Regions from separate parts of the Homo sapiens genome. Here all the other regions are linked to region 2. The links come from fine-mapping of genetic effects on gene expression. A gene starts in region 2. Each other region holds a variant in brackets. All regions are shown on one strand. Distances are between the middles of the regions.

Region 1 (5,149 bases), 25 kb after region 2:
GACAGAATGTTTTGAGACTTATATGAGATGGAAGTTGTACCTCAGGAGGAAGAACTGGGTGGGAAATATAGTCTGTGAAGTCACCAGAACATAGGTGGTAAATTCTGAGATTGGCTAAGGTCACCGGGGAAGATAGTATGGACTGAGTAGAACATGGGATTTCTTCTTTCCTTCTTTCCTTCCCTCCTTCCTTCCTTCTTCCTTCCTTCCTTCCTTCCCTCCTTCCTTCCTTCCCCTCTGTCTCTCTCTCTCTTTCTTTCTGACAGTCTTGCTCTGTCACCCAGGCTGGAGAGCCGTGGCGTGACACTGCAGCCATCATCTCCCCAGCTCAAGTGATCCTCCCACCTCAGCCTCCTGAGTAGCTGGGACTACACCTGTGCACCACAACATCAGGCTAATTTCTTTTTAAAATTTTTTGTGGAGATGAGGGCTTGCTATGTTGTCCAGGTTGGCCTCGAACTGAGTTCAAGTGATTTTCCTGCCTCAGCTTCCCGAGTAGCTGGTATTACAGGCCTGCCACCATGCCTGGCTAATTTTTGTATTTTAGTAGAGATGGGGGTTTCACCATGTTGGCCAGGCTGGTCTCGAACTCCTGACCTCAAGTGATCCGCCTGCCTTGGCCTCCCAACATGCTGAGATTACAGGTGTGAGCCACCGTGCTAGGCCAGAACATGGGATTTCTTATCAGCAACCCCAGATGCAAAAGACAGGGCTGACAAATATCTTTAAAGTGCTGATTACAAACAACTTTGGACTTAGACTTTATTCCCCAAAAAACCAAGTCAAGAGCCAGAGTCTCTTCCAGCACTTTGGGCTCTCAGGGACCCTTCAGTGTGTTCCTGGCCACCTTTCCAAGCACTAGCTTCAAAACACGCCAGTCACAACAGCCTTCAAACTCTGGTGGCCTCTCAAGTGTGGTGTATTCAACACCATGGACCCCAATGGGACAGAAGAAAGCACACCCAGGTGCAGGTGGCCCTTAACACTAGGTCTTGAGGGCTGAGTTTCTATATCATGTCTGGGCTTGCTGCTGTATAACTCTGTGGCAGATTCTTTACTTGGCTTGCGGCAAGGAGACCTGTCCACAGCAAAAAGCATGAAAAAGACAAAAAAGCTATGTACTCATATGGGAGTCTAAATGTGGCAGGGAGTAAGAATTAATTCTCTCTGCTGTGCCCTCCTCCAGTTTCCAAAGCCTTTTGGTTGACCAAGCAGGGCCCAAAGGCTGCTGGCCTGGACAGCCACCTCATGGGCTTGCTCATGTGTTGAAATGCAGGAGATCATTTCCAGCTGGTTTTTGGGAGGAGGGGCTTTTGGGGAGGCCAGTGCAGAAGAGAGGGAGGAGGAGGATGGAGAGGAGGAGCTGTCTGCTGCCATGAAGGGCTCGAGTCCCTAGCAATAGAAGCCTGAGGGCCTAAAACCAAGCAATTGTTTCCTAAGGGACTTCCTGCACCTCTGGGCAAAGGCAGAAGGCCAGATGCTGGGGAGACCTCACAAGAGTACTTGTAGACTTGAACAGAGCTGTCTGGGGCCCAGATGACAGAGGGGACACAAGCTTCACACTTCTCTGACTCCATGAGAACTAAAGCTTGGGGCCATCTGGAGGTAGCCCAAGGTGCATGCAGCACTGATACTCTCGCCACGGCCCTATCATCATGTGGAGGGAGGCAAGTCTCTTTCAGGGAGCTTTCAAATCAGCTCTTCACTATCCTCCTACTTACTCCCTTTCTGCTCCCTCACCTCCTCCTCCTCTTCCAAGGATCTCCTAAGGCAGTTAGGGAGGAAGAACTTGGCAGACTGCATGGTGACCACAGCTAGCCAACTGGTTTGTGATGACTCCCAGATAAACAGAGGGACCTGTTTTAAGGGTTTGGTTCCTGTTAGGGCAGGTTTGTAGGAAGATAAGCGTCTTTTTCACTTATGCTCAGATTACAACACTTTCAACACTTTGGAGTCCATATTAATTTTCTACTGCTGCTGTAACAGATAATCACAAATTTAGTGACTTGAGACAACACACATTTATTAGCATACAGTTCTGGGCATCAGAAATATAATACAGGTCTCATTAGGTGAAGATCAAAGTGTCAGAGGGCTGTGTTTCTTCTGGAGGCCCTAGGGGAGACTATGTTTCCTTGCCATTTCAAGCTTCTCGAGGCTTCCTGCATTCCTTGGCTAGTAGCTTCTTTCTCCATCTTCAAAGCCAGCAAGTTTTGGCTGAGTCCTTCTCACGCTGCCATTTCTTTGATTCTCTGACCACAGCCAGGAAAGCATCTCTGCTGATGAAGACTCCTATGATTAAATTGGGCCCATGCAGATAATGTCCTCATCTCTAGGTCCTTAGTCTTAATCACATCTGCAAAGTTCTTTTTGCCATGTGAGGTAACATATTCACAGATCCTGGGGATTTGGATGTGG[G/A]TGTTTTTGGTGGCTGTTATTCTGCCTATCACAGAGTCCTGGCCTGTGAGGCCAGGAAACATTTGCATTACTCAGATGTTCCAACAATCCATGGTGTTGGCTTTGGAGCAGAGGTAGAATGACCGTGGAGCTGGTGAAGCTGAAACTTCAGGGCTCCTCATTTGCTTGTGTGCACCTATTCCAAGCCCTCAGTTTTGTAGGCATAATTGTGTGCTTTATTTCTCAAAGAGGGCCACCACGATTACAGAAACTTGAGGCCCCACAAAACCTGAAGGGGGTCCTGTTCTGGAATGTGTGTGTGATGAGACAAATGGAGTGCCCCCAGGAGGCCCTTGGGGGGCAAGGTGTGGTGTGGTCTCGCCCACGATGAGCCCGTGCTTCTGGCTGTTAAGTGAGATACCAAAAGGAAGAGTTTGGAGAAGCATCTGGGGAGGAGGTTAAGCTGTGGCTCAAGGGGGTGGCAGAGATTTCTGAGGAGGAAAGGAAAAGAAAAGTAAAGAAGGATTTGTTTCAGAAAAAAGAGAAGTATTGAAAACGGGGCAGGGGCATTTTTGCTGGGTGATGTGCTTTGTGAGCCTGCCCTTCATTGCTGCTCAAATGTCAGACATTCGCTTAATGCTTGAGGAGCTGGATTTGTGCTTTTGAGCTTCTGTGGAAATGGGTTGCCAGGCTGAAACAGGCCTCCAGGCAGGCAGAGAAAGAGCAAGGACACTCTGAGAGTCAGGAACATCAGGTTCATGTGCTCTTTCATTCATCAAAAAGGATCCCAGAGAAGCCAGAAACAAGGGCCTCATATTGTATGATTCCACTTACATGAAATGTTCAGAATAGGCAAATCCATGGGGCTAGAAAGTAGATTAGTGGTTGTCAGAGGATAGGGAGAGGAGGGAATTGAGACTAACTGCTAATAGATATGAGCTTTTTTTGGGGGGTGATGGATATTTTTGGAATCAGTAGTGATCATTATACCACTCTGAATATACTAAAAACCACCGAATTGTCAGCATTTAAAGGGTAAATTTTATGGTATGTGAATGATATGGTTTGGATTTGTGTCCTTGCCTAATCTCATGTTGAACTGTAATCCCCAATGTTGGAGGCGGGGCCTGATGGGAGGTAATTGGATCATGGGGGTCATCCTTCATGAATGGTTTAGAACCACTCTCCTGGTGCTGATCTTGTGATAGTGAGTGAGTTATCGTAAGATCTGGTTGTTTAAAAGTGTGTAGCACCTCCCACCTCTCTCTCTTGCTCCTGCTCCTACCATGTAAGAAGCCTGCTCCCCCTTTGCCTTCTGCCATGATTGAAAGCTTCCTGAGGCCTCTCCAGAAACAGAAGGTGTTATGCTTCCTGTACAGACTACAGAACCATGAGCCAAATAAACTTCTTTTCTTTATAAATTACAGTTTCAGGTATTTCTTTATAGCAATGTGAGAATAGATTAAAACAGGGAATTATATCTCACTTTTTAGAAAGGGGTCTCTAAAAATTGGCTGTGCCTAAAACTCAAGGAAAATACACTATGAAAACCCATTTTTGAGAGCTGAAAGGCTACTTATTCCAATACTCCAGTGAGGCTTCTTTCAAGCATCACTGCTTAAAACAGGCCAAGGTTCCTCTTGTCATTCCTCTGAGTTCATACCTCCTCTGAAGGTCAGAAAACCTGTGCCTTTATACAGCTTCCTTTGTAAGCAAATATGGGGTTGACAGATCTTCAAACTTTTTGGCTTTCTGATTCTCCTGCTTAGCAAGATAGGGCATAAGGAATAAGTATATACTGATACTGTGATATAAGCAAAAAAGGTTAATTCACAGAGGTTAGTGACAGCAAGAATAAAATGAATTGTTAAGACTAAAGCAAACCAGAGCCAGTTAATCTTTACAAGTCTTCCATGTTTTGGAATTTCTTTGCAACATCAATCTTCATCCTTCCAGAGGATCATGAAAATCATAGGTAGTAAAGTGCTTGACTATGTTTTTCTATTGATTTGTACTTTTCCCACTTAGATTTACAACTCTCAGTGGGATGATTTAATAAGCCATTTTGGAGATATGGCTTGGCACAAGGTAAATTACACCAGCCTGCAGGCTCTATTTACTGCTCAATCTTCACTATTGTAAAGGTGACTTTTGAGACAATTTCAGGTCACCAGCCTCTATTAGTCGTCCATTAGTATCCAGAAAATAATTTTGGGTGAGATGATTTGTGAGCTGCATAGAAACACACCTATTAGTGTCAGAGGATAAAGGCTGTTTAAACGTGCTTGGGCAGTATACAAAACAAAGTCTGAAAACCGAAAACACTCTATTGGAGGGAAAACCTAGTAAGATTTTCTTCTGATATATGATATTTCATCTTGTCTTTTATATTCTGTAGCATGTGAAATATAACCAATCAGGGACTCTTAGTTAATTTGGTGGTCCACAAGAAGCCATGGTGTGATAGATGGATTTAAAAATGTTTCTAAATCTTTACACACCTAACACCACCACCACCACTACTCCCTTTCCTAACCTGTGAAATGTGAGTTTGAAGTTCCTCTAATAAAGAAGTGGGGTCTATTTTCTTTGCTCTTGAAAAGGGCAAAGAAAAGTCTGGTCTTATAACTTGCTTTAGCCAAGGCAATATGGCAGAAGTCACTCCCTTCCATTCTTTCCCTTGGAAACTTGCTGAGATGTGAACAAATCCCAGTTAACCTGCAGACGATAAGAGCCACATGGCCTGTTATTC
Region 2 (5,149 bases):
TCCACACCAGCTTTATCAGGGTATGCACATAAAGCTTGAACTTGATTGCTTGCTGCTCCGCCCTCCTGAAATGTGCCCTCTGGGAGGACAGGGGTAATGTATGTATTCTACTTTGTGTGTCTAGCAACCAGCACACAGGAGGTCCAATAAATATTTGCTGAATGAATGAATGAATGAATGGGGGACACGGAGAAACAGATAAGAAATGCCTAATGTCAAGAGCAAATATTTACCCAGCCCTTATATGTCAGGCACTACACAAAGCCATGTACACTGAATTGACTCATTGACTCCTAAAAAACCCTATGAAGTAGGAGCCACTATTTCCTTCATTTTAAACATGAACAAAGTGCATTACAAAGAGACTAACCAGTTGTCCATGGTCACAAGCTAGAAAGTGACAAGCATGGGACTGGGTCCTGGAGAGTGGTTTGCAGAGCTGGCCATGTTCTTAACCTTTACACCCGAGAGGAAAAATGATGTCCTGCATTAAGGGTGGAGCCCTCTCTAGTGGATCCTAATCTGGAGGAGGACTGTAAGGGGTGCTGCCATTGGCAGGCTTTTTAACTTTTAGGTTCCTGAAGGCTTTTGCATTCTTGGACTTTTTAGAGGGACGGGGAAAGAGGAATTCCTCAATGACATAAGAAGGGGTGGAAATGCGGAGAAACAAAGGAAAGCATCTAAAATCCTATCCCTGAAAGGGTAGAGCCTGCAGCAGAACTCTCTCCAATCATGGGCAGGAAAAATAAAAAGGTGAATACTTCAGTTACGGTTTACACAGGACGTGCAATTACATGTGCTTCCAAGCCGCCCCTGCCATTTGTGGGGAACACCACCATCTACTGTTCTCATCTCTGATACACCACAACCTGGAGAGGAATCATGGTTCCAGTTCTAGTTTCTGCACCGTATTACCCCAAAGGCCATTTGACCATCTTCCCCCAACCTTTAACTCCTCTGTATAGCCTTATTCTGGCGGATGCAGCTATTACTCACCCAATTCCTTGGGCCAGAAAACCTGGAAGTCTCTCAAGATTCCTCCTTCCCTCTCCTTCACATCCAATTGGCCACTGAGTTTTGTGGGTTCTATTTCCTAAATCAATCTGTTCATTCATTCCATATTATGTGCCACGAATACGCCGTGATGAATTGGATAAGACCCCTACCCCCAGCTTCAAAGAGCTTACTGTCTTAATGAGGTCATTTTGCAAATGAACAACCCATTCTATAGCACAGTGGTACATGCAAGAAAGGGGTTAAGCAGAGTCCTGGGAGGGAACACCTCAGGGCTTTATGATTCATCTTGGGAAGCCTGAGGGCTTTTCTGTTGGCATGCCCACGCTGAAATGTGAAGGATGTATACCAGGAACCTGGTGAAGGAAGCGTGCAGAGGGGAAGCAAATGCAACTTTCTGGAGGCTAGAACAGAGAAGGGGAAGTTCACCAGGTCCGCAGAGATTAGCCTGGAAGCTGGTCTCCAGCCCGGTCCTAATCCAGTAATTACACTGCCCAACGGCTTTCCAAAACTCAAAAGAAAAAGCCCAGCACTGTCCTTCCTGTCCCTGGAAGTTTGTCCTTCAAGTCTCCCATCACTTGTCATTCGCTCATCAAGTATTTACTTAACATCCACTCTGTGCAGGTACCATATTGATAGCGGCCTCAAGGGTGCTTCTATTTAGGGAATTTTTAGTCTATTGGAGCAGATAGACCGTGGGGGGCATTCCGGGGATGCTGGGGGCTGTCAGGCCACGCTAGAAGCTGACACTGAAGACGTCAGCTACTCTTTAAGGACCCATCTGCCTCGCTGCCCACTGCTCAACCCGTCACTGGGGGCTCCAGGCCTGCCACCGGCTTGTCCTCTGAAGGGATAAGCAAGTGTTCTATTCACAGCCCGGAGTGCCCTTCTGCCCTCGCCCGAGGCCACTGCCCGCCTGGGGCCAGCTCCAGCGCTGCGTTCTCCAAGCGTGGCCACACTCATCGGCGCGCTGCTCTGCCAAGGGGGCTGACGCGGCGCGCACGGCCAGGGAGCTCTTGGGGGCAGACGCCGTCCAGCCTCCCGGCCGCCGGGTGCCTACTCCAGACCGGCTCTCTCTCTCCCTAGGCGCCTCCCACGCCCGGGCCGGAGAGCGGGCGCTCGGGGCGACGGACGACCCTGCGCGCACGTGGGCGCAGCCTGGAGGCCGCGGGGACCCTCTCCCATGGGGGCGACGGGAGACGTCCTGCCGGTAGACCTTGGCCAGGGGGTCGCGCTCCCCGCCCGCACCCCTCCCGGAGCCCCGGCGGGGACGTGCGGGGACGCGCCCGGGCGGGAGCGCGCGCGCCAGGCGCCTCCGAGGTCCCGGCAGCGGCTCGGGGCGGGCGGAGGAGGGGCCGAGGGCGGGGCGGCCGCAGCCTCCGCCATTCCCGGCCCCCCCCGGCCACGGCGCACCGCCTCCCCGCCCCCGCCCGCCCTCCCCCACCGCGCGCGCTCCGCCCGCCCCGGAGCCTCGCCCTCCGCCACGATGAGCAAATGAGCGCGAGCGAGGGCATGAAATTTAAATTCCACTCAGGGGAGAAAGTGCTGTGCTTCGAGCCTGACCCCACCAAGGCGCGAGTGCTGTACGATGCCAAGGTGCCGCCGCGGAGGGACAGGGAGGAGGCGCGGGCTGGGGGACCCGGGACCGGGGGCGGGGGCGGGGGCGGACGGCCGCGCGGAGCTGAGGGACCGGCCGGGCTCCTCGGCCTGCGAGGAGCGGTGCGGCCGGCAGGGGGCGCTCACAGGGCGCTACGCCCGGGAGTCGGGGCGGGGTCTGGGATGCTTCCACTTCCTTCCGTCAGGCCGGGCGGCGCACGCGCGGTTGGGAGCCTCGCCCATGCTTTGTCGCGTTACCGGGGCTACCGTTTGCGCCCCCGACTGCAACGGTGGCCGCTGAGGGAGGAGGCTTCTCGAATACGGTTTCTGTCTTCGCGTTAAATGTCTCCTTCTGTGCGGCCTGGTGCCGGGTGGGCTCCTGTGGGACGCCCTGGCCGTCCGATCCAGGTTCTAATTCATAGTTACACGGCGCTGGCCGCTGACTTGCGACGTTGTGTCCCTGGGACCCTAGTCCAGTTTAGGCCCCATCCCGCCTGTAGGCCGTGAACCCCATCCCGAGGGCAAGGTTGGCCCAGTGTTTTCGTACCCCAGGGCCTTGCAGCATTTACGTTTTCAAACTCTGAAGGATTTACGTGGGTCTGACCATAGTTGATGGGAATCGCGCCCCGGGCCGGTCCACCTAAGTCTCCGGGAGCTGAGCCACATCTTGCAGCTCCTCAGATTTGGGTGGCGGGCAGGAGTTGGCACCAGGTCTCCCAGATCCCCAAGGAAAGCACCCAGGTGCTTTCATTTCAGAGACCTGGGTTCCTAGGGCCACCTGGGCGAAGCCTTAGGCGGCAGGGACAGGGGCAGTCCCAGGTGTGTCTTTGGCGATGTCTGGACAGCTCTGTCCATTAGAGATGCTAAAGGACATCCCTAAAGGGATGAGCATATTCTGCCTTCAGTTCCCTCCCCTGCTGCTCCTGTCTTTTAACCGCGTCTGCTATCCCTCTTTCTCCTCGCCCTCCAGCCTCCTCGGGGCGGAGGGGGGGGGGCACGCCCCATCATTAGTTTTAGTTGTTCCCTCTAGGGACACAACAGGGAGGGATTCCAGAGTCTCCAGCTAGCCATCCTGGCACTGGACATAGGGGAGCCCAGGAGACTACAACTCCCAGAGCTCTCAGGGCTGCAGCTTTCATCTAGCCTGGAGTCTCTCCTTAGTGACAAATCGGCTGGCCAATGGCTTCAGAAGCCTCACACTGTCTCACGCTCAGAGACCAATCACGGGGTGGTTGGACGGATGTTTCCTATTTTGAAGGCGTCCACTTGGGGGAAAAAAATGAAAGGAAAAATATTTCAACCCGGCTGTCGGTCTAAAAGAGGAGAGAATGCTTTCTTTAAAAAAGGGTCTGTGAATTAGTTTTCCTGATCTAACTTCTAATTTTCTGTATGTTCTGCCATTTGTGGGAAATATTTCTTCGTTTCAGATTGTTGATGTTATTGTTGGGAAAGACGAAAAAGGCAGAAAGATCCCAGAATATCTGATCCATTTTAATGGTTGGAACAGAAGGTGAGTGAACTTGTTAAACCAGACTGAAAATTGATTGTCTTTGCTGCATAGAAACATTGCAGACTTAAGTTTCAGAAACACTTGTAGAGAAGTTTGTTTCATTTCCTGCTTTTACTTTGTAGCATTGCAAACTTCTTTAAGTTTTTGAAACACTTGTAGAGAAGTTTGTTTCATTTCCTGTCTTTACTTTGTAGCGTTGCAAACTTCTTTAAGTTTTAGAAACACTTGTAGAGAAGTTTGATTCATTTCCTGTTTTTACTTTGTTACCAGAACTTGCCTATTGTGACGAATAGTTACTTTTAAGTCGATTGTATTTGGATTCTGTCTGGGTGATTCTGGAAACCCCAGTTGTTTCTGTGTCTGAATGAGTTACTTTTTCAGTTTATTTGCCTCCTCTTTGTGATTTTAAAATATTTAAATCGTTTTCTAAAAATGTAATTCTGGGGCATTTCTATTGCTTTGAGGTACTTTTAGTCGTTGTTTCATATCAAACTAAAGTACTGAATTTTCCTTTTTTGTTCAATTAGCTGGGATAGATGGGCAGCAGAAGATCATGTGCTTCGTGATACCGATGAAAATCGTAGATTACAGCGTAAATTGGCAAGAAAAGCTGTAGCTCGCCTGTAAGAATACAAAAATCAAGATATAAATGTTATCCAATGTGTTTTCTCTTAGTGTTTTAGATTTTTATGATATAAAAGTAATACAATGACAAATATCATTTATTAAATAATTTTAAATATTTAAAGTGTGTAAGGGGAAGAGTGTTCCTATGGTATTCTAAATAACAGTGTTTTCAGAGTGGTTATTGTATAATTTTCTGAAATGGAAATTACCATTTATGTTCTAAAGTTTAATAATTTTTCAAATGTATTTCATTGTTTATTATATCTTGTTTTGATCTCAAGACTCACGAGTTCAATGTCAAAACTTATTTCAGTTGTTTGCTACTCTTTTTCAGGAGGAGCACAGGAAGAAAGAAGAAGCGCTGCAGGTTGCCTGGTGTGGACTCTGTCTTAAAAGGCCTCC
Region 3 (5,149 bases), 37 kb before region 2:
AAGACCATGGGTTACGGCATTATCAATAGCAATAGAAAATTAAGCAAAAAATTAGTTTTTCAAAAGGAAGTTACTAATATAACTGATATATCTGTACTACGTAAGGACTTTTTACTTCGTAGGAAATATGGTATATAATATCTGTCTATCCCTATAGCTTGTCCAAAGTTAGGATGATATAATATGTTTTTGCTTTCCTTCACGATTAGTTTAAAATCATATTGGAATTTAAAGGAGGATTTAGCAGAATATCAACTTCTGTGAGAAAATGATGAAAGGAAAAACAATTGGGTCTTTTGAATGAAACAGGTTGCTGCGGGTGGCTATAACAAGTAAACCACTTAAGTTCAATGGCTAAATTAAACAAGACAGGAGCTTAATTCTCACTTCCATAAAAAAACAATTTGAATATTTTCGGTCACTGGGCAGGCAGTTATCCTCCATGGAGTTCTGCTATCCCCTAATGCCTCAAGTCCTCTGCCTCAGGAAAAGAGAATAGAAAAGGTACCAGTGTCTTTGAAGACTTAAACTGAACTGACAAACCTCAACTCTATCCACACATCAGTGGTGAGAACTAGTCATGTGGTTACAACTGGAAGCAAAGGCAGCTGGAAAAGGTAATGCTGGGTGGGGCAGCTGCCTCACCATGACCACAGCACATGATCGAAAGGGCAGACAATTATCAGTGGACAGATGGCATCCTGCATCTTGCCATCATGAATGAACCTTTATAACTCAAAATAATTTGAAAAAAAGAAACTTAGCCATTGTTATGGATTGGATTTTGTCCCGCAACAAAATATGTTGAATTGCTAAGCTGCAGTACCTCAGAATGTGACCTTATTTGGAAACAGGGTGGTTGCAGATGTCACTAGTTAAGATGAAGTCGACTGGAGTAGGAAGGGCTCTTAATCCAATATGACTGATGTCCCTATAAAAAAGGGAGAGACACAGTGAGAAGAGAGCCATGTGATGACAGAGGCAGAGATTGGAGTGATGCCCTACAAGCCAAGGAATGCCAAGGACTGCCAGCAACACCAGAGGCTGAAAGAGTCAAGGAAGGGGTCTCCCCTAGGTGCTTCGGAAGGAGCATGGCCCTGCCAACACCTTCATCTCAGACTTCTGGCCTCTAAAACTGTGAGACAATAAATATCTGTTGCTTTAAAGCCACCCAGTCTGTAGTGTCTTGTTACAGCTGCGCTTAGAAACCAATACAGCAATCCAGTACCAACATGGAGGACAAAACCGTCACACCAACACTTCCCAGGCCCTGTGTCCTGCCTACCTTTGACTCTTACATATCTCTACTTTATATTTGCCAAAGGAAGCCTGGCTGATGGTGGGGCAATGGGGAGTGGGGCTGGTTGGACAAATACAGCCCTTTAGTCATGACTCCATCAGCCTCATTCAAACTCTCTCAGAGAGACAGTTACCTCTCAGTGTATGTGTCTTTCTCCATCCTCTGTTTCTTGAACTCCTCAAAAATGGCCCTCTGGATTTAGCCTCTTGGGGTTCTAAGAAGGCCTTTGGAAAAGGAGGAGTTATTATAAGAAGCAATAAACAATATTGGGGCAGAAATGTTCTTCTGTCTAGGCCCCCAGGCTGCTTTTAGGACACTTCCCTCTCGTCTTCCATGGCTCCTCTGACATCTCCCTCATGGACATCTCTGCTTCCTTCCGTGTGTTCCATGATTCCCCATGTTCTGACTGGCTAATGCACACTGTATTCTTCTATCCAGATTCCACTGGGAGCTAGTCTCACCAGCCTAGTGAGTTTCCACCACCGCATTGGGCAAAGCCTTTACACCAGGCCACCTCAGGGGTCTCCCCAAGCTATGGAAACTCCACTCTTTGTTCTTGGGCCACCCTACCCCCACCCAGGTGGCTACCTCATGCTAAGAACAGGCTGTCACAGATTCTCCTTCAAGGCACTGTGGATGGGGTGTGGCCCAATAGGAGGGAACTTTGCACTTTCCAGGTTAGTATGTCTGACAAGTCCAGCACAGACCCAACGTATGTTCTAGTAGTCTTTCCTCTATCTTAA[T/C]TGCTTATTCTTGATAGATGTCATTTTATCTTTTGAGGTGGCATGGTTGCTCAACATGAGCATAGACACAAAGGCCGGGTGTGGTGGCTCACATCTGTAATCCCAGGGAGGATTTTGGGAGGCCGAGTTGGGTGGATCACCTGAGGTCAGGAGTTCCAGACCAGCCTGGCTAACGTTGCAAAACCTCATCTCTGCTAAAAATACAAAAATTAGCTGGGCATGGTGGCACGTGCCTGTAGTCCCAGCTACTTGGAAGGCTGAGGCAGGAGAATTACTCGAAACCGGGAGGCGCAGTAAGCTGACATCATGCCACTGCAGTCCAGCCTGGGGGATAGAGTGAGACCCTGTTTCAAACAAACAAACAAAAAAGACACGAAAGCAGAGCCTGGAGCATCCATGGTCTAGTTCAGAGGCTATGCCATGGGAATAATAATGGCTCATACTAATAGCTAACTCTTACAGAGGACTTTTTAAGAGGCAGACAGACAGTCTTCTAGATGCTTCACATAAGTTAACTCATTTAACACTCACAACAACCCTCTGGGGTGGACACCATTAATATGTCCCATTTTATGCCTAAGGAAACTGAGGCACAGAGATTCCAAGGAACTTGCCACATGTGTGTATTAACAAATAAATAAGAAGGTATAGGTTTAAAAAAAAGAAATTCCTTGAAAAACAAAGACATTTGAACTGAATTTGGTGAGACAGAGAGACACTGAGGTTTTTGAGACCAGAATGATTCAGCAGGAGCGAGATGGATTAGTGGCCCCTGAAACTAGGGGTAGTGGCTGATCCAAAAAGCTCCTGCAGAGATCCACATCCAGGGGAGAGGCTCTGAACTGGAGTGGTGGCAAAGGCAGTTGAAACAAGAAGCAGGTACTTTGGGAGGCCGAGGCGGGCAGATCACGAGGTCAGGAGATCGAGACCATCCTGGCTAACACGGTGAAACCCCGTCTCTACTAAAAATACAAAAAAATTTAGCCAGGCGTGGTGGCAGGCACCTGTAGTCCCAGCTACTCGGGAGGCTGAGGCAGGAGAATGGCATGAACCCAGGAGGTGGAGCTTGCAGTGAGCCGAGATCGCGCCACTGCACTCCAGCCTAGGCGACAGAGCAAGACTCCATCTCAAAAAAAAAAAAAAAAAAAGAAGAAGAAGCAGGTAGACAAAATTGCAACATCTTGTAGGACTTCCTGAGTAATGACAAGAGCTGTAACCATCAGGGTTCAATGAGGGAAAGAAAACTGCTAGGAGAGTGCGATGGATTGAATTGTTACCCCCCAAATTCGTATGTTGAAGCCCCAACCCCCAATGCGATGGTATTTGGATGTGGGATCTTTGGGAGGTGAGTAGGTTTAAATGAGGTCATGAGGGTGTGCGCCTCATGATAGGATGATTGTCCTTATAAGAAGGGGCACCAGAGAACTTGCACTCTCTGCCCTCTACCACGTGTGGACACAGTGAGAAGGTGGCTGTCCGAAAGCCAGGAAGAGGGCCCTCACCAGAACCTGACCCTGCTGGCACCCTGATCTTGGATTTCCAGCCTCCAGAACTGTGAGAAATAAATTTCTGTTGTTTAAGCTACCCAATTTGAGGTATCTTGCTATGGCAGCAGAAGTAGACAAAGAGAGAGGAATGGATAACGGATGCATTTATAGTGGATAAGGCTGATGCAATTGTGGGAGTTGGTGAAGCAATTTACAAAGATGAGGAATCTGAAAGGAAAGCTTGACACCGTTCATGACACTGATGCCCATCGCAACAGAGCCAGCTGTCTGCACACCTGGCCCAGGCCTTGGGGAAGCTGAGGGGGACATCAGAAGGAGCTGGCGGAGCTGTGGTGCAGGTGCTGGCCTCATGTCAGCAGATCTCATGTCAGCAGATCAGTGACAATGTGCAGAAGCCCTGCTCAAACCTTCAGAGTGTACAATATATGACTTCTGCTTCAATTCCAATTTCCAAGTTGCACACAAAATGTCCTGGGTGGCCAATATTGCCTGGAATCAAATGGCAAAGGGGATGCTGTGAAACCTAGGCTTAGCTGAGTTAAGTTAATACAGCACAAAGCCAGCAAGATAGTGGATGAGAAAAAGCAGACAAGTAAAGAGGACCCCAAGTTTTTGTGCATGCTTGACTAGAAAAATGGTGATGATTCTAGGAGATGTTGGAAGACGATGGTGAGCTTAGTTCTGCTGTAGTCTTTGGCATGTATGTAGAAACATCTAGCAGGCAACTGAAGACTTAAAGAGAGGACAAGACTGGAAATAAAGACATAGGAGTTTTTAACCAAGTGAGGTTTTGTACACTTCTCCATTCTCTATGCTGCTGAAGGAAATGATGCAGAAAGTGCATGGAGCCATCAAAAATTGGATTTTGTTCCTTTTAAGAGAAAATTTTATTCTTCATTTGATTCTTTCATTTAATGAAAGAATCACTTATTGAGCAACCACTTATTGAGCACATGTATAAGTTCGTCATAGTGGTTCTAAGATAGAAAATCTAGGGTCCTGCAAACAAAAATCACCTAAAAATGCCTCAGACCAGGCTGTTATAGGGTTTGTCCATGTTGTGGAAGCTGCTTTGAAGATTACGCTTGGAAAAGAAAGGAGAAGGCACTTAAGAGAATCAGTATGTGTGAGATATAGAAGTTTTTGCACTTACCCTTCACTTTATAAAGAGAGGTTAGTTTTCAGAATGGATGTACTGCTTTATTATTTACTTATTTATTTTTTTATTTTTGTAGAGATGGGAATTTGCCATGTTGCCCAGCCTGGTCTCGAACCCCTGGGCACAAGAGATCTGCCCCCCTCGGCCTCCCAAAGTGCTGGGACTACAGGTGTGACTGCCAGATGATGTAATGCTTTAAATCAGTGAATTAAGACAAGGGCTCCACAAGAAGATCATAAAAGAAAAAAGACCACTAGGACATGTCTTCCCTGACTTCCTCTTCTTAAAGAGCTACAGAAACTTCAACATTCAGGCTACCAGGTCAGCCTCGCCCACCTCACCTAAGCGGACCTAAGTCTGGCATCAGGTGGGTCTAGCATGGCTCTTGCTGCCTCTACACTTGGACCTCTTCACACGGAGGTCCTCAGTCCCTCCAGCA
Region 4 (5,149 bases), 53 kb before region 2:
ATAGCAAGGAAACTCTGGCCAGAGATGACATTTGATCCCACAGCTCATCAGGTCTATGTACGATATTTCACACACCACCCAATAGATGTAATGACAAGATAATATTAACAACAACCACTTTCCTGGATCACTCCCCTCCCCGCAACACACCACTCCAATACAACGGCCACACATTGCATTAATACCCCAAACCTATTCTCAATTTGTTAAATATGGTGCAAGCTCACAGTTAGGAGGATGCAAATCTAGTTGAGCCAAAGAGTCCCTGGAGCTCTGGGAGCCTAGGTGGAGGGTCACCTCAGAGCTTTCCAGTACCCGCAGCTGTGGCTCAGGCAGCTGTGGCTCAGGCAGCTGCAGCCAGGAACTAGTGAGGTGGGACAGCCAATGAGGGAGGTAGAAGTCAGCTGGCCCAGCTTGGGGAGGTGTATCTCTCAGCATCTCAGCTTTGGGACTCTGCCACCACCTCTTCCTAGCCCAAGCTGCTGCCTAAACCAGGCATGTTGAAGGGTGAACAGTGGCTGCCACAAGGCCAAGGCCAAGGCCAAGAGATTGCTGACACTCTCACTCCCTTGCCTGAGCCCCTAGGCCTGTGACAAGCCACACTGTCCTCCAGAACCCATCTAGCTCTAGGCAAAATGTCTTAGGCTTCTGACTGAGGAGTCCACCAGGGCATGAGTAACAAAAGCCAGGATCTGGGCTTTCTAGAGGGCAGGGCCTCTTTCTTTCTAGTCCCCCAGCTTCTTCCTCTGCTTGAAGGTGACTGTTGCAAACAGACAGGTTGTTGCCCATAAGTTCTCAGCCAGTCTCCGGTAATTAGGTTTGAAAACATGAGGTAGAAGCTTCCCCTCACATTGATGTTGTCCCTGGGCTGGCTAGAGTCACCCTCTGGCAGGTGAACAGAAGCCAGCCCTTTTCTTGACTCCTGGCCAGTTGTGCCACACACCAAAACTCTTCAAAACCTACTCCCTCGACCTCTGCTCCAGGAAGGGCAGGACCCAGAGTGGAAGTGGGGAGCACCACTGTCTTTTCACACCCTTTGAGTTTCTTCTGGCCACCATTCTTTCCTTCATCCACACTCCCACTTGCCCTCCTGCACCCAGCTGGACTATAGACTTCAGAGTTCACAGGCAGGTTCACCCTGGGATCCTGCCTAGCAAGTCCAGGTCACGCTGATTATTGTAAGAGATTACACTAATCAGCGTGACCTAGAAGCTCCTGGGTGGATCCGAGTAACAGATTTCCTCCTGGCCCAAAGGCCGGGCTTTTTTTTTTGTCTTCTTCACAGCTTTCAGGTGAGTGCTGGATTTGCAGACAGTAACCAGGCCCTCAAACCTGTGGAGATACATTTTCCTGGTGCTGCATCCATTCGTCTCCTGGGGAGATAGAAGAGATGGCTTGTTCTGCTTCTTTTTTGTTTGCGTTTTGAGACGGAGTTTTGCTCTTGTTGCCCAGACTGGAGTACAATGGCACGATCTCGGCTCACTGCAACCTCCACCTCCCGGGTTCAAGCAATTCTCCTGCTTCAGCCTCCTGAGTAGCTGGGATTACAGGCATGTGCCGCCACACCCAGCTATTTTTTTGTATTTCTAGTAGAGATGGGGTTTCTCCATATTGGTCAGGGTGGTCCCCAACACCTGAACTCAGGTGATCCGCCTGCCTCGGCCTCCCAAAGTGATGGCTTACAGGCGTGAGCCACCGCACCCTGCCGGCTTGTTCTGCTTCTAAACAAGCTGCCAATCCACGGGAAGCCCGAAAAACCCTGCTCACAGCAGGGATGGAGAACAGAGGAGCAATGCTGGCTGTGGAACACCCCCCTGCAGGGGGCTGGGCCAGGGCTAGTGGGGTGAGTCTTGGATCAGGCCGTACTGCATGCTCACAGTGTGGTCCAACTCCTCCAGCCCTACAGGCGGCGGGATGCCCAGCTCCCCCAGGTACAGAGAGTCCTCCAGTTTTGAGAATGCCAGTCTGCTCTCGGGCTCCAGTCTGCAGTAGATCATGGCCAGGGGGAAGAAGGTTGGAGGGCAGTCTGTGGGGACAGACTTCTCCCAGAAAAGCATCATGCTGAGGCCAAAGTCCAGTGTTTGGGGAAGGAAATCGGGATCTGCATACACCTGCCCAATGGTCTC[A/G]CAGAGAACGATCCCAAAAGAGAATACATCCACATTTCGTCATAGCTCTTTCCATTCAGCATCTCAGGTATCATCCAGTAGAGGTTTCCCACCACCATGTAGCACTTCTTGAAGTTGTTCTTGTGCAAAGTACATTTCTTGGTGGTGGCCATTCTGGAGGCAATGCCTTTGGCCAAGCTGACTTCCTGCTGCCAGGGGAATGGGTCCACACTTTGCAGAAGGTCCTTCAGCATGCCCCCCTCAATGTCCTCTCAGCAGGTTCAGCTTCTTGTCCTTGTACAGCACGCCAATGAACTTGAGCACATTGGGGTGGTCCAGGCTTCACGTCACTTTCACTTCAGTCAGAAAAGTCTTCTGGTTCTCCTCATCACATCGCATTAATTCCTTCATGACCAACACTTTGCCTGTGGCTTTGTGTGTCACTTTGATAGCCTGCCCAAAGAAGCCCTTCCCCAGGACCTCCCCGTGGATCAGGTCACAGGACCGGAAGTTCTGCTTTGAGTAAGTGCTGGAACAACAAAGGGATTCCCAGCAGCTGATGTCACGGCTGAGCAGCAGGGGCTCCTTTGGAGAGCTAGGGCTAGGGGACTTGGAGATGCTGTTACTGAGTCTTAGGGAGCATCTTCTCAGTGTCCCCTCCAGATTATCCTTGGTGTCCAGGGTGCTGAGGGCGTGAGGGTGTCCAGCATTCTGTGTGTGGGGAGAGAGCCAGGCATCCAGCCGCAGCTGGGCTGGGGACCGGGAGACAGGGTCATGTTCAATCAACAGCAGAAGTGTCTGGCTCATCTGGCTAATTGCATCCTCCAACTCCTCTACTTGGAGTGTGTGGGTGGGGGTTCCACTGATCTCCAGGATGTGGTCCCTGGGGTGGATGGCATTGCAGCTGTTGGGACTGATGTGCATCTGGTTGACCTCTTTTACTTGCACGGTGGTAACATAGTTGGAGCAGGCATTCTCCACGGACACGGAGAAGCTCCGCCTGCCCTCTGTGATGGCCAGCATGGACATGAGCATGACAGAGTAGGGCAGCTGGTCCTGAATGGACTCTGTGGAGAGTATCTCAAATATGGGTGCCAGCACCACCTCATTTGTGGCACTTTCCACAGTATAGGGTGACACGCAGCACCAGGGCGTATGCATCCCCATCCTCAATGGTCACCTTATAGCTCACACAGGCAAAGCATTCTGGATGGTACTTGAACTCCCTATTAGCAGCAGCAAATCTGCATGGGTCTGCAGCAACCTCAATTCTTCCTCCTCAGAAGAAAGAATTCGACTGAGGGGCATAAGAGAGAGTGAGAGACCAAGGCAAGTTTCAGAGCAGGAATGAAAGTTTATTAAAAAGCTTTAGAGCAGGAATGAAAGGAAGTAAAGCACACTTGGAAGAGGGCCAAGCAGGAGACTTCAGAGATCAAGTGTGCAGTTTGACCTTTGACTTGGGGTTTTACATGTTGGCATTCTTCTGGGGTCTGCATCTTGTCTCCCCTGATTCGTCCCTTGGGGTGGGCTGTCCGCATGCGCAGTGGGCTGCTAACACTTGGGAGGGGCTGCATGCACAGTGTGTTTACTGAAGTTGTGCACATGCTCACTTGAGGTGCTTTATGTGGTCCCCACAGCCCTGACACCTCCAGGCATCTTCACCTTGGTCCTGGCATTACCACTAGTTGAGTGACCTGGACAACTTCATTTTCTTCCCTAAGCCCCAGTTTCTTCATATGTAAAATGAGGAGATTGTACATTATCTCAAAAGTCTCTCCTGGCTCTAGCACCCACCAGTGCAGACATGGTCCCAGGAGCATAGAAACGGGGAGGAGGAAGCAGGGCCGCAGCAGCACCAATAAGCTCCCACCTCTGCCTAGGCGAGGGAGGACCTCAACCCCAGGCACGAATGGGCGGATTTTTAAATCTATGATTAATCTAGGATTCCTTTGAGTAAGACTTCAAAAAATAACTTTAATATTAGAAAAGGGTTTTGATTGTTTTCCTAATAAATGTGAAAGGAAAACATTAGATCATTTTTCATGGTTTGAGCTTTAATCTGATATTTAATTATGTTTCTGCTTTGCTACAATCAATGAAAGTATGTTGCTTTTGTTTTTGAAATCTTGACATCAACCCAGGATAAATGAATAAAATTTCAAAAAATTAATTTGCTAACACAAAAGGCTTTAGTTATTTTACTTTTAAACGTAAAGTTACAGAATAGCCACCATTACATAATTCGAGCTTTAATAAACTCTAATAAGAAACATATCCTTGTTTAAAATATTAGAACATAATGGCTCTATGCACATTGATTTTCTTCTTTTCTATAACTGCTATGCATTTTGATTCAAAATTAGTTTTTACAGGATTTCTTTTATAAATTATTATCTTGGAGCCTATAAGTAACAAATTTCTTTTCTCTGATCATTCCATAAGCCAAAATATTTCAAACCAGATGTACATGTGAGTTGTGTGTGTATTCTTTATCCACTGACATTTCAAAATTCTATTTAATTATATCTTCATATTTTAAAAATCAGATGATTCAGGGGACTGATTCGATAAGTTGTCTTACTTCCACTAGTGGAATACCATGCAACTGCAAATCCAAGGACTAAGAAGTTCTCTTAAGTTCCAATGTGGGAAGATGTCCAGGTAATATTGTTGAGTGAAAAATCCAAGGCACTGAACAATGTGTGTGTATATTTATATATATAGAACACCACCTTTTGTAAAGAAAAGGTGGAAAATAAGAATAAATATTCATAGGAGTAAAACTTCTTGAGGAATAATGTTTCGTGTATTTTGCCTTTTGAACCAAGTAAATCAAAGAACTATTCAAAAATAACAATAAGGGGGGGAGGAGCCAAGATGGCCGAATAGGAACAGCTCCGGTCTACAGCTCCCAGCGTGAGCGACGCAGAAGACGGTGATTTCTGCATTTCCATCTGAGGTACCGGGTTCATCTCACTAGGGAGTGCCAGACAGTGGGCGCAGGCGAGTGTGTGTGCGCACCGTGCGCGAGCCGAAGCAGGGCG

The links. PIP is the estimated chance that this variant, and not a neighbour inherited with it, causes the effect. A credible set is the group of variants that fine-mapping cannot tell apart.
Region 1: its variant is the best candidate, but not a certain one, in a credible set for the expression of MSL3 in blood mononuclear cells (TOPMed, PIP 0.72).
Region 3: its variant is the best candidate, but not a certain one, in a credible set for the expression of MSL3 in whole blood (TOPMed, PIP 0.56).
Region 4: its variant is the best candidate, but not a certain one, in a credible set for the expression of MSL3 in whole blood (TOPMed, PIP 0.86).

The regions. Positions count from the first base shown.
Region 1 is chrX:11,780,333-11,785,481 of GRCh38, forward strand. No RefSeq gene overlaps it. Among named protein-coding and RNA genes, the nearest start is that of MSL3, 25 kb to the left of the region's middle. The variant G/A (reference allele first, on the strand shown) is at 2,419.
Region 2 is chrX:11,755,756-11,760,904 of GRCh38, forward strand. It overlaps MSL3 (MSL complex subunit 3), which reads left to right and starts at 2,482. Exons shown (of 13, transcript NM_078629.4): 1 at 2,482-2,610; 2 at 4,038-4,120; 3 at 4,648-4,743; 4 at 5,082-5,149. The coding sequence starts at 2,509. It overlaps MSL3-DT (MSL3 divergent transcript), which reads right to left and starts at 2,328. Exons shown (of 2, transcript XR_007068393.1): 1 at 997-2,328. RefSeq lists silencers at 2,022-2,221, 2,242-2,391, 2,402-2,781 and an enhancer at 2,635-2,929.
Region 3 is chrX:11,718,796-11,723,944 of GRCh38, forward strand. No RefSeq gene overlaps it. Among named protein-coding and RNA genes, the nearest start is that of MSL3-DT, 37 kb to the right of the region's middle. The variant T/C (reference allele first, on the strand shown) is at 2,044.
Region 4 is chrX:11,702,282-11,707,430 of GRCh38, forward strand. It overlaps the pseudogene LIMK2P1. Among named protein-coding and RNA genes, the nearest start is that of ARHGAP6, 39 kb to the left of the region's middle. RefSeq lists enhancers at 1,854-2,353, 2,370-2,871. The variant A/G (reference allele first, on the strand shown) is at 2,127.